Linked DNA regions of Homo sapiens: region 2 is linked to region 1. The links come from fine-mapping of genetic effects on gene expression. A gene starts in region 1. The other region holds a variant in brackets. All regions are shown on one strand. Distances are from middle to middle. Region 1 holds the start of MMP11 (matrix metallopeptidase 11). Region 2 has its middle 5.8 kb from the start of DERL3.

The links. PIP is the estimated chance that this variant, and not a neighbour inherited with it, causes the effect. A credible set is the group of variants that fine-mapping cannot tell apart.
Region 2: its variant is the best candidate, but not a certain one, in a credible set for the expression of MMP11 in whole blood (TOPMed, PIP 0.84).

What each region holds. Positions count from the first base shown.
Region 1 is chr22:23,770,709-23,775,088 of GRCh38, forward strand. It overlaps MMP11 (matrix metallopeptidase 11), which reads left to right and starts at 2,141. Exons shown (of 8, transcript NM_005940.5): 1 at 2,141-2,270. The coding sequence starts at 2,163. LOC107985577 (a long non-coding RNA gene) reads left to right here. Exons shown (of 3, transcript XR_007068022.1): 2 at 479-599; 3 at 1,161-1,669.
Region 2 is chr22:23,842,626-23,847,005 of GRCh38, forward strand. No RefSeq gene overlaps it. Among named protein-coding and RNA genes, the nearest start is that of DERL3, 5.8 kb to the left of the region's middle. RefSeq lists enhancers at 1-142, 1,757-2,250. The variant C/G (reference allele first, on the strand shown) is at 1,985.

The DNA.
Region 1 (4,380 bases):
TAAAAGTAAATAAAAGTGAGTGACTTTAAAGAAAAGATTGCCTTTCAGGCGCGGTGGCTCACGCCTGTAATCCCAGCACTTTGGGAGGCCGAGGCGGGTGGATCACCTGAGGTCAGGAGTTCAAGACCAGCCTGGCCAACACGGTGAAACCCCATCTCTACTAAAAATATAAAAAATTAGCTGGGCATGGTGGCGGGCGCCTGTAGTCCCAGCTACTCGGGAGACTGAGGCAGGAGAATGGCATGAACCTGGGAGGCGGAGCTTGCAGTGAGCCGAGATCGCGTCACTGCACTCCAGCCTGGGCGACAGAGAGAGACTCCGTCTCAAAAAAAAAAAAAAAAAAAAGAAAAGATTACGAACAGTGTAGGTTGTAAAAATTACTGCTGTCTTACTTCTCCTCGCCCTCTAGGAGTCTCTGTGGAGTCTTCTTGAATAAGCTGTGAAACATTTCCCCACCCGCTTCCCTTTCTTGGCCCAGGCTTCCTGACCACAGCCTCACCTTTGAGCAGCTCAGAGCCCTGCCTGCCAGGATGCGAGCCACTGCCTGGATCGTGGCTCTGCAGGGCCACCCATGATGGAACAGGTCGCCTGGTGAGGTGGTGAGGCCCTTCATCATTTCAGGGGGTGTACAGCAGTACTGGGTAACCCCGAAAATCAGGGATGAGACTGAAGGATCCCTTCCAGAATGTGGACACAACCCCTCCTTTGAGTCTCACCTCCTTTCCTTCTTTTTTTTGAGATGGAGTCTCGCTCTGTCACCCAGGCTGGAGTGCAATGGAACAATCTCGGCTCACTGCAACCTCCGCCTCCCGGGTTCAAGTGATTCTCCTGCTTCAGCCTCCTGAGTAGCTGGGCTTACAGGTGTGTGCCACCACACCTGGCTAATTTTTGTATTTTTAGTAGAGACAGGGTTTCACCATGTTGGTCAGGCTGCTCTCCAACTCCTGACCTCGTGATCCACCTGCCTCGGCCTCCCAAAGTGCTGGGATTACAGGCATGAGCCACTGCGCCCGGCCTCTCGCCTCCTTTCTTTCAAGTCTGAGGTGGCTAGCCTGGAGGGGTCCCCAGGGGCTTGTTGGGCACTGACGAGGGGACACCCTGGGGGCCCAGTACTCCACTCAGACACCTCCCACAGCCTTCTGACAGCATCCTTCCCACAGCTGACCAGCTAGAGGACCTCCTGACCCCTCCACTTGTCTGCTGGTGTGGAAAAGCCTGGACCCTCCCTCTTGGAGCCTCAGTTTCCCTATCTGTAAACTTCGGTCTATCCCAAGCTGAAGAACTGGCCAGTCCCTGCCATATGCCTCACTTTCCCCTGGGACACATTTTAATATCCCTTTCCTGGCCAGGTGCAATGGCTTCCCCATGTAATCCCAGCACTTTGGGAGGCCAAGGTGGGCAGATCACTTGAGGTCAGGAGTTCGAGACCAGCCTGGCCAACATGGTGAAACCCCATCTCTACTAAAAATACAAAAATTAGCCAGGCATGGTGGCGCACGTCTGTGGTCCCAGCTACTTGGGAGGCTGAGGTAGCAGAATCGTTTGAACCTGGGAGGCGGAGGTTGCAGTGAGTGGAGATCACACCACTGCACTCCTGCCTGGGAGACAGAGTGAGACTGTGTCTCAAAAAATAATAATAATAAAAAATAAAATAATATCCCTTTCCTCACAGGGGCTATTGTGTCATCTTCTAGAAGGATCCGTTGAGGCTCTGAGGGGTGGGGGAACTTGCTTGTGGGTAGGACCACCTGTCAGAGGTCAGAGGTCAGGCCACCAAGGAGACCCAGTGGGATGCGCCTTCCAAAGGTGGGGGTACGGATGGGACCCATGAAACCTGACTCCTCTCAGACTCTAGCCAAGTCTAAGACTTTGGACGGCCACCACCCAGAGGAGAAACTGAGACCCAGAGCGGCACGGGTTGGCCAGGGTCACCCAGCACCAGATAGGGACTTTGCCAGCCCCGGGGCAGGACCCTGTCTCCGGCCCTCGACCCCGCTGGGCCGTACCCTCCCCGTTCACCTCCCCCACCCGGGCCGCGGCTGCTAGGAGAGTTCAGAACAAAAGGCGGCGGGGGGCGGGGCCGAGGCGGGCCGGGGGTGGGGCGGAAGCTATAAGGGGCGGCGGCCCGGAGCGGCCCAGCAAGCCCAGCAGCCCCGGGGCGGATGGCTCCGGCCGCCTGGCTCCGCAGCGCGGCCGCGCGCGCCCTCCTGCCCCCGATGCTGCTGCTGCTGCTCCAGCCGCCGCCGCTGCTGGCCCGGGCTCTGCCGCCGGTGAGTGCCCGCCACTCGCCGGCCGCTCCTCGCTGAGGGGGCGCCGGGCACGCGGGCTGGGCCCAGCGGCGGATCCGGACCGAAGGGGGCGCCCCGGGTGGCCTCCAGCGCCCGGTACCCGAAACGCTTTCTGGTTCCCTCTAGGCGTGATAGACAGCGAGCTTGCAGTCCCTGGGGGTGTGAAGGGGAGCCGGCGCCGGCATCGTTCGGGCTGGTGGGACGGGACTCCACGCTGGACTCACGCTTGCTCCCAGCGTGGGGACCTGCCTCTCGCGCTCCAGCCGCGGGTGCTGGAGTGTGCGTTGAAGGAAGCAGCAGAGGGAGTGGTAACAGGGCCCCCTATTCATCGCAGGGACAAAGCCGAGCAGATCCCAGGCAGGTGTCAGCCTGCAGGTGTGTGGCCGCAGTTAGTACACCTCCAGGTGTGCGGTGGGATGAAGGATAAAGGGAGAAGGGAGGGCAGCGCTGTGCTGCGGGAAATGGGGTCTAAGCCTGGAGATGTCCCCCGCGGGCACCTGCCGGCAGCAGTTTTGGGAGGCTTGGAGCCAGGAGAACATGAGTATGAAATAGTATGAGTGCAGTGTGTGTGTGACTGAGAGGTGGCTGTCAGAAAGAAGCGGGGAGAGAAAGGAAAGGGAGAAAATGTGTGCTCAGGAGAGGAGAAGAAAGCCCAGGTAAGAGAGGACAGCAGAGTGAGGAGAGGAGGGACTGTCATGGAGTGTGTGTGACAGCTTGCATGTGTCCCAAAAGCTGCCCCTTCCCTGGGGCGCTTCCAGGCACCAGTCACAGGGCCTGGGGCCAGAGCCTGGGCCACTCCACTCCACAGCGGAGGCATCCAGACAGCTCGGGCAGGGAAGGGAGCAGGAGGGTGTGACAGGCAGGAGTCTCAGGACTGGCCTGGTGAGGAGGCAGGCCTGGCCAGGCTGGGACCCTCTGTCCAGCCACTCTGGCTCTGCTCAGGGCAGCCTTGTCCTGTGCTGGCTATGGGAGCAGAAAGGGATGGGATGGGTGGGGTAGAGTGAATGGGGGGCATCTCAGTCTGGAGTCTTGCCTCCTTCCCAGCCCCTCTTGGTTCCTAGGACTTGGGACAGAGTCAGGAATCACTGTGGGTAGACATTGAACCACAGGTCTGGAAATTGGAGAGATCTGGGTTTGAACCATGTGACCCTGGGTGAATCCTGCCATGCCTCAGAATCTCACCCACTCCATCTCTAATGGGAGTGCAGGTGGGAGGGGGCAATGGTGCCTACTGCTGTGTCCACTGTTGAGCAATGAGGTGATGCCAGGCTCACTAGAAACACTGTCACCTGTAGCTGCCACTTTGACGCTTGTGCATGGTCAGTGCTGGAGCTGGGGGCCAGCTTGGGGTGGGGTCTGAGCTGGACTGTGGTCTGTCACTCTGCAAACACGCAGGGAGCATGTGGGGTCACCTCTGATGTGTTTATCCCCCGGCTGCCTTCAGCAAGGCTGGGAGAGCTCTGTAAATATTTATCCAGCCCAGTTCCCAGCTTTCAGGGTTGATGGAAGCCCTGCAGTCCGATGGATGGGACGAAGCTACCGTCCCTCCTGGAGCCAGCAGCAGAGGGGTGAGAATAGGAAGATTAGGTGGAAGCTTGAGGGAGAAGATATCCCTGCTTGCCACCTGGCTGTGTGAGTTGGGCAGGTTGCTTGACCTCTCTGAGCCTGCATGGTGATGCTCCCGTCTTCCTCCATAGCCTAACAAGTGCCCTCCTCGAAGTCTTGCCTCCCACCGACATCAGAAGGCATAGCTATGATTAATTATACCCACTAGACCAACTGCAAACTGAGGCCCAGAAAGGGGCACAATGAGCCCAGCCTTTCGCAGTGTTTCCTGGCACCCTGGGGTCCTCCCTTATCTCCCCTCTATCTGGTGCCTCCCATTTTCTGGATTGCAAGTTGACCCCAGGGCGGGGTTGACTCCGAGTCTCTAAGCTCTGCCAGGACACTGGGTCAGCTGAGAAATTCCTTGAATGTGTCTGCAGCTGAGGTTTGGTGTCTGGCAGAAGAGGGTGGGGCTGAGTGAGCTAAGAACCCACCACAGGGCAGGCCAAGGGAGGCTACTGGCCAAGACAGAGGGAATGCACTGGAA
Region 2 (4,380 bases), 72 kb after region 1:
CTTGGACCCTTGAGCCCCTCCAGATAATTCTTTATAGAGGGAAGCCCTGGGCATCCCAAGTTCCCAGGGTCCTAGAGATGCAGGGTGTGCCTTACCCTAACATCAGGGTGGCAGACCTGTCGGCTGGGCCAGCCTTCTTTCTCCTGTGCTGAGGATGGTGGGTGGGTGGAGACCTGTGGTTCCTCGGCAAGGTGACAATGGGCTCTGCTCCCCATGCCACCTCCCTGGCATTGTGACGCTTCCTGCTGACTCCCAGAGGACACCTAGATCTCCTGTCCAGGCCCTCTCAGTGTCTGTAGGCAGGATAGCGCCCTCTGCATACTCTCCCCACCCAGCTTTCCCCCTCACTGGCCTCACACACTAGGAGGGGCCATCCTCAGCCCCCAAGCCTGGAGTCAGCTCTATACCCTCAGCCCCATGTTGCACTTTTTTTTTTTTTTCCTAGAGACAGGGTCTTGCTCTGTTGCCCAGACTGGAGAGTAGTGGCGTGATCACAGCTCACTGCAGCCTCAACCTCTTGGGCTCAAGTGATCCTCCCACCTCAACCTCCCAAGTAGCTGGGACAACAGGCATATGCCACCATGCCCCGCTAATTTTTTAATTTTTTTGTAGAGATGGCGTCTCACTGTGTTGCTTAGACTGGTCGCAAACCCCTGTCCTCAAGCAATCCTCCCTTGGACTCCCAAAGTGCTGGGATTACAGGCGTGAGCCACCACGCCCGGCCCCCTATGTCACACTTGATGCTCCCATGGAACTCTCTAGTCCTTTCCCTTCTCTCCTATGCCTTACCACCACCACTAACTCTTATTCAGGCCTCAGGTTCTCTCCTCTAATATTGTCCCAGCTCTCTGAACTATTCATTCTGTTAAAAAAAAAAAAAAAAAAAAGAGTAAGGCTGGGTGTGGCGGCTCACGCCTGTAGTCCTAGCACTTTGGGAGGCTGAGGAAGGCGGATTGCCTGAGCTCAGGAGTTCAACACCAGCCTGGGCAACATACAGAAACCCCATCTCTACAAAAAATACAGAAATTAGCCAGACGTGCTGGTGCATGCCTGTAGCCCCAAGTGGGAAGGGGGAGAGAGCCAGGGGGCTGAGGCTGGAGGATCGCTTGAGCCTGGGAGGTCAAGGCTGCAGTGAGCAGAGATTGCACCACTGCACTCCAGCCTGGGTGACAGAGTGAGACCCCGACTCTTAAAAATATTTTTTAAAAAATGTTTCCTGGCTGGGCACATTGGCTCATGCCTGTAATCTCAGAACCCTGGGAGGCCAAGGCCGGTGGATCACCTGAGGTCAGGAGTTGGAGACCAGCCTGGCCAACATGGTGAAACCCTGTCTCTATTAAAGATACAAAAATTAGCCAAGCAAGGTGGTATGCACCTGTAATCCCAGCTACTCAGGAGGCTGAGGCACGAGAATCACCTGAACCCCGGGGGCGGATGTTGCGGTGAGCCAAGATCGTGCCACTGCACTCCAGCCTGGGCGACAGAACAAGACTCTGTCTCAAAAATAATAAAATAATAAAATAAATATGTTTCTTAAAAGCAAAATAAATAAAATTAAAAAAATAAGAGAGGAAGAGCAGAGGGTGAAAGTGCCTCCTACTCCAGGAAGCCCTCCCTGGTCACCTTCAAAGGGACCAGAGCTCACCTACTTCTGTTAGAGTCCTGAGCACTTAATTTTTAAATATATTTTATTCTAAAGGCAGTCCATGCCTGTTGTAACTAACCACAAGAATCAAACAAACTGAACGTTTGTGTACCTGCTGGTGCAGCTGTATTTTCTTCTTGATGACACATAGTGCCTTTTGGGCCCTGAGCACTTGTCCATTGGGGGACCTCTCCCCTCTTTGAGCACGGGGCCCACCCCCTTTGAGCACAGGGACCCCTGCAATTGCTGTGAGTAGGCTTCCAGCTAGCCCCTCCCAGAAACAGCTGTGTCCCCCTTGGCCCTTCCTGTCTGGGCCACAGGCTATTTTTAGCACTGAAT[C/G]CGGAACCCACATAGCAGCAGCTGCTTGTGGCCGGAGCGCAAGAACAACAAACCATCCAGGTGGGTTGTGTCAGGCTGCAGAGGGAGCGGCCTGGGCCTGGCCCTCTGAACCTGGTAGCAGAATCTGGACTTTCCAGGAATAAGCTGGTCTCTGGGTGGGATGGGGAGGGAGGAAGCAGAATGGGGCAGAGGATGGGTTGCACTAGCTAGGCCAGGATAGGGGAAGGGCCTGTGCAAAGGCCCTGAGGTAACTGGGGGAGAGGAAGGGAGCAGAGGAGAGAAGGTGAAGGAGGCAAGGAAGAAGAGTTGCTTGTGACGGGAGGGAGAAGCGGGGCCAGGCCAGGCAGAGGTGTGTCGGCCGTGGTCTCTGTCCTAATCAGATGAGCCGGGGAGGAGAGCGGTGGCCTGCAGTGGCTTGCATTAACAGCGAGGGAGTGGAAGGGTTAGGATGGCTGAAGCCACAGGCCTTAGTGAATGCTTGGTAGTGGGGGTGAAGGTAGGAGGGGTCCTGGCCTACCCAGCTTGGGGGACAGTGAGCCCCCACTGGGTGGAGACATGGGTGAATGGCCAGTAAGGGAGGGAGACCACTCGTTGAGTCAGGCAGGTGAGCTTGGGGTGCTGTGGGGTGGAAGCCCTCCCTGGCCTCTAGCCCAGTCCTCCCAGCTCCTTCCCTTCCGTGGCCCTGGTCATTCCTGCTTCATGCAGAAGGGCTGCAGTTGTCCACACAATGGCCCCTCTAGGCCTGGTTTCTGCTGCGGAGCTGGCACAGGCAGGGGCTTGGTAAACAGGGAAAAACAGGGAAACTTGTGAAGACAGAGACCTGGACTCCAGGGCTGGAAATGCAGCCTCGGGGCTGGCATTGTGACCTGAGCACTCCCTTCCCTCTCTGGCTCTGTGTCCCTCTCTGTGAGATGCGGGTCAGAAGGGTCCATGTGTAGAGTCTCTTTCAGCTCCAAGGTTGTACTCTGATCTATAATGGGGGTATCAGAGATTTCTGGGTGGAAGCCCCTTCCTGTAACAAACACAGCTGGCCTCCCCATCCAAGGCCCATCTCTGCTATGAATAAGTGAATGCTTATGAGCAAGAATGCACCAACAGAGGAAGCTGGAGGGCCCCTGCCAGTCCTCTCTGCCGGATCTGTTCCTCGCTGTCTCCTCTCAGCCAGGAGCCTTCATGGGCCTATGGTCAGGAACAGCCAGAGAGGCCTGCAGGGCTGGGGAGGGAGTCGCTGTGGGTGCCTTTTTCCTGCAGGAGCTCAGCTTCTGGCCAGGGGAGGAGACACTGAATCCCATACCAAGCAGGGAGTGGAAATGCACTGGTGAGTGGTCCAGGGCAGCCGTGGGGCAGGAGAGCTCCTGATGAGGACAGGAGGAGGAGGGGATGTGCTAGGCAGGGACAAAGGCTTAAGCAAAAGTGGGGAGGCAGGAATGGGCCCGTGTGCTGCTCATGGACTAGGCAAGGACCTGTGAAGTGCGGGAGATAATAGCTGCTCAGTGATCTATAGCCAGACTGCACCATGGCTTTTATTAAACTCACCGAACCCTCATCACCACCTGATGAAGTAGGTTACTATTACGGATGAGAAAATAGGCTCAGAGAGGTTCAGTAAACTGCCTGAGGACACACAGCTAAAGAGGCACAAAATCAGCAGTCCTGGCTTTGCCACCATAACGGGTGATGGAAGGGACCCATGCGGAGGAAGTGAGCTATCCCTGACCCCATCACTGGGGCACAGGGGAGTGAGGGACATCACCAACCAGCTAATGCTGTGCAGCCCCAGACCCTTTTCCAGCTCCGGTTTGGAGGTGAGAACTTTTTGCAGCCTCTGGGCTCCCAGGGAGCGTCTCCAACATGAGACTCCACTCCTGAGCTGCCTCCCTGCTGTCTGGGCCTCGTTTTACTGTCTCTGACCCTTCATGGCTGATGAAACTGTCTCCATTCAGCCCTCAGCTGCGGGACCTGCCTGAGCCTGTGTCCTGACTGTCATGACCCAGAGCAATTGCCAGGAATTCCCACTTCCTGCTGTGGCCGCTGCCAGAATGTCAAAGCCACCTCCGGCCAAGCACCCCAGAGCTCCAGAGCATCTGGTGGGGGCTTCCCCCTCCCCTGCCTCAGCTATTTTCAAGCTCAGCACTGTGGGCGGTGTAGGGGGAGAAGCAGATTATCTGTTTGGCAGAGTCAGCCATATGGCAGGGCCAGGGATATGAGTTCACAGAGACAAAACCTGAGACAGCTCTGTCTTTGACTTCGAAAAAGCCTGGCGGAGTGGCGTGTGGCTGTAGTCCCAGCGGAGGCAGGAGGATTGCTTGAGCCCGGGAGTTCGAGGCCAGCCTGGGCAACAGCGTGACACTCCATCTCTACGAAAACAAAACTAATCTTTAGGGACTGGGGCCACC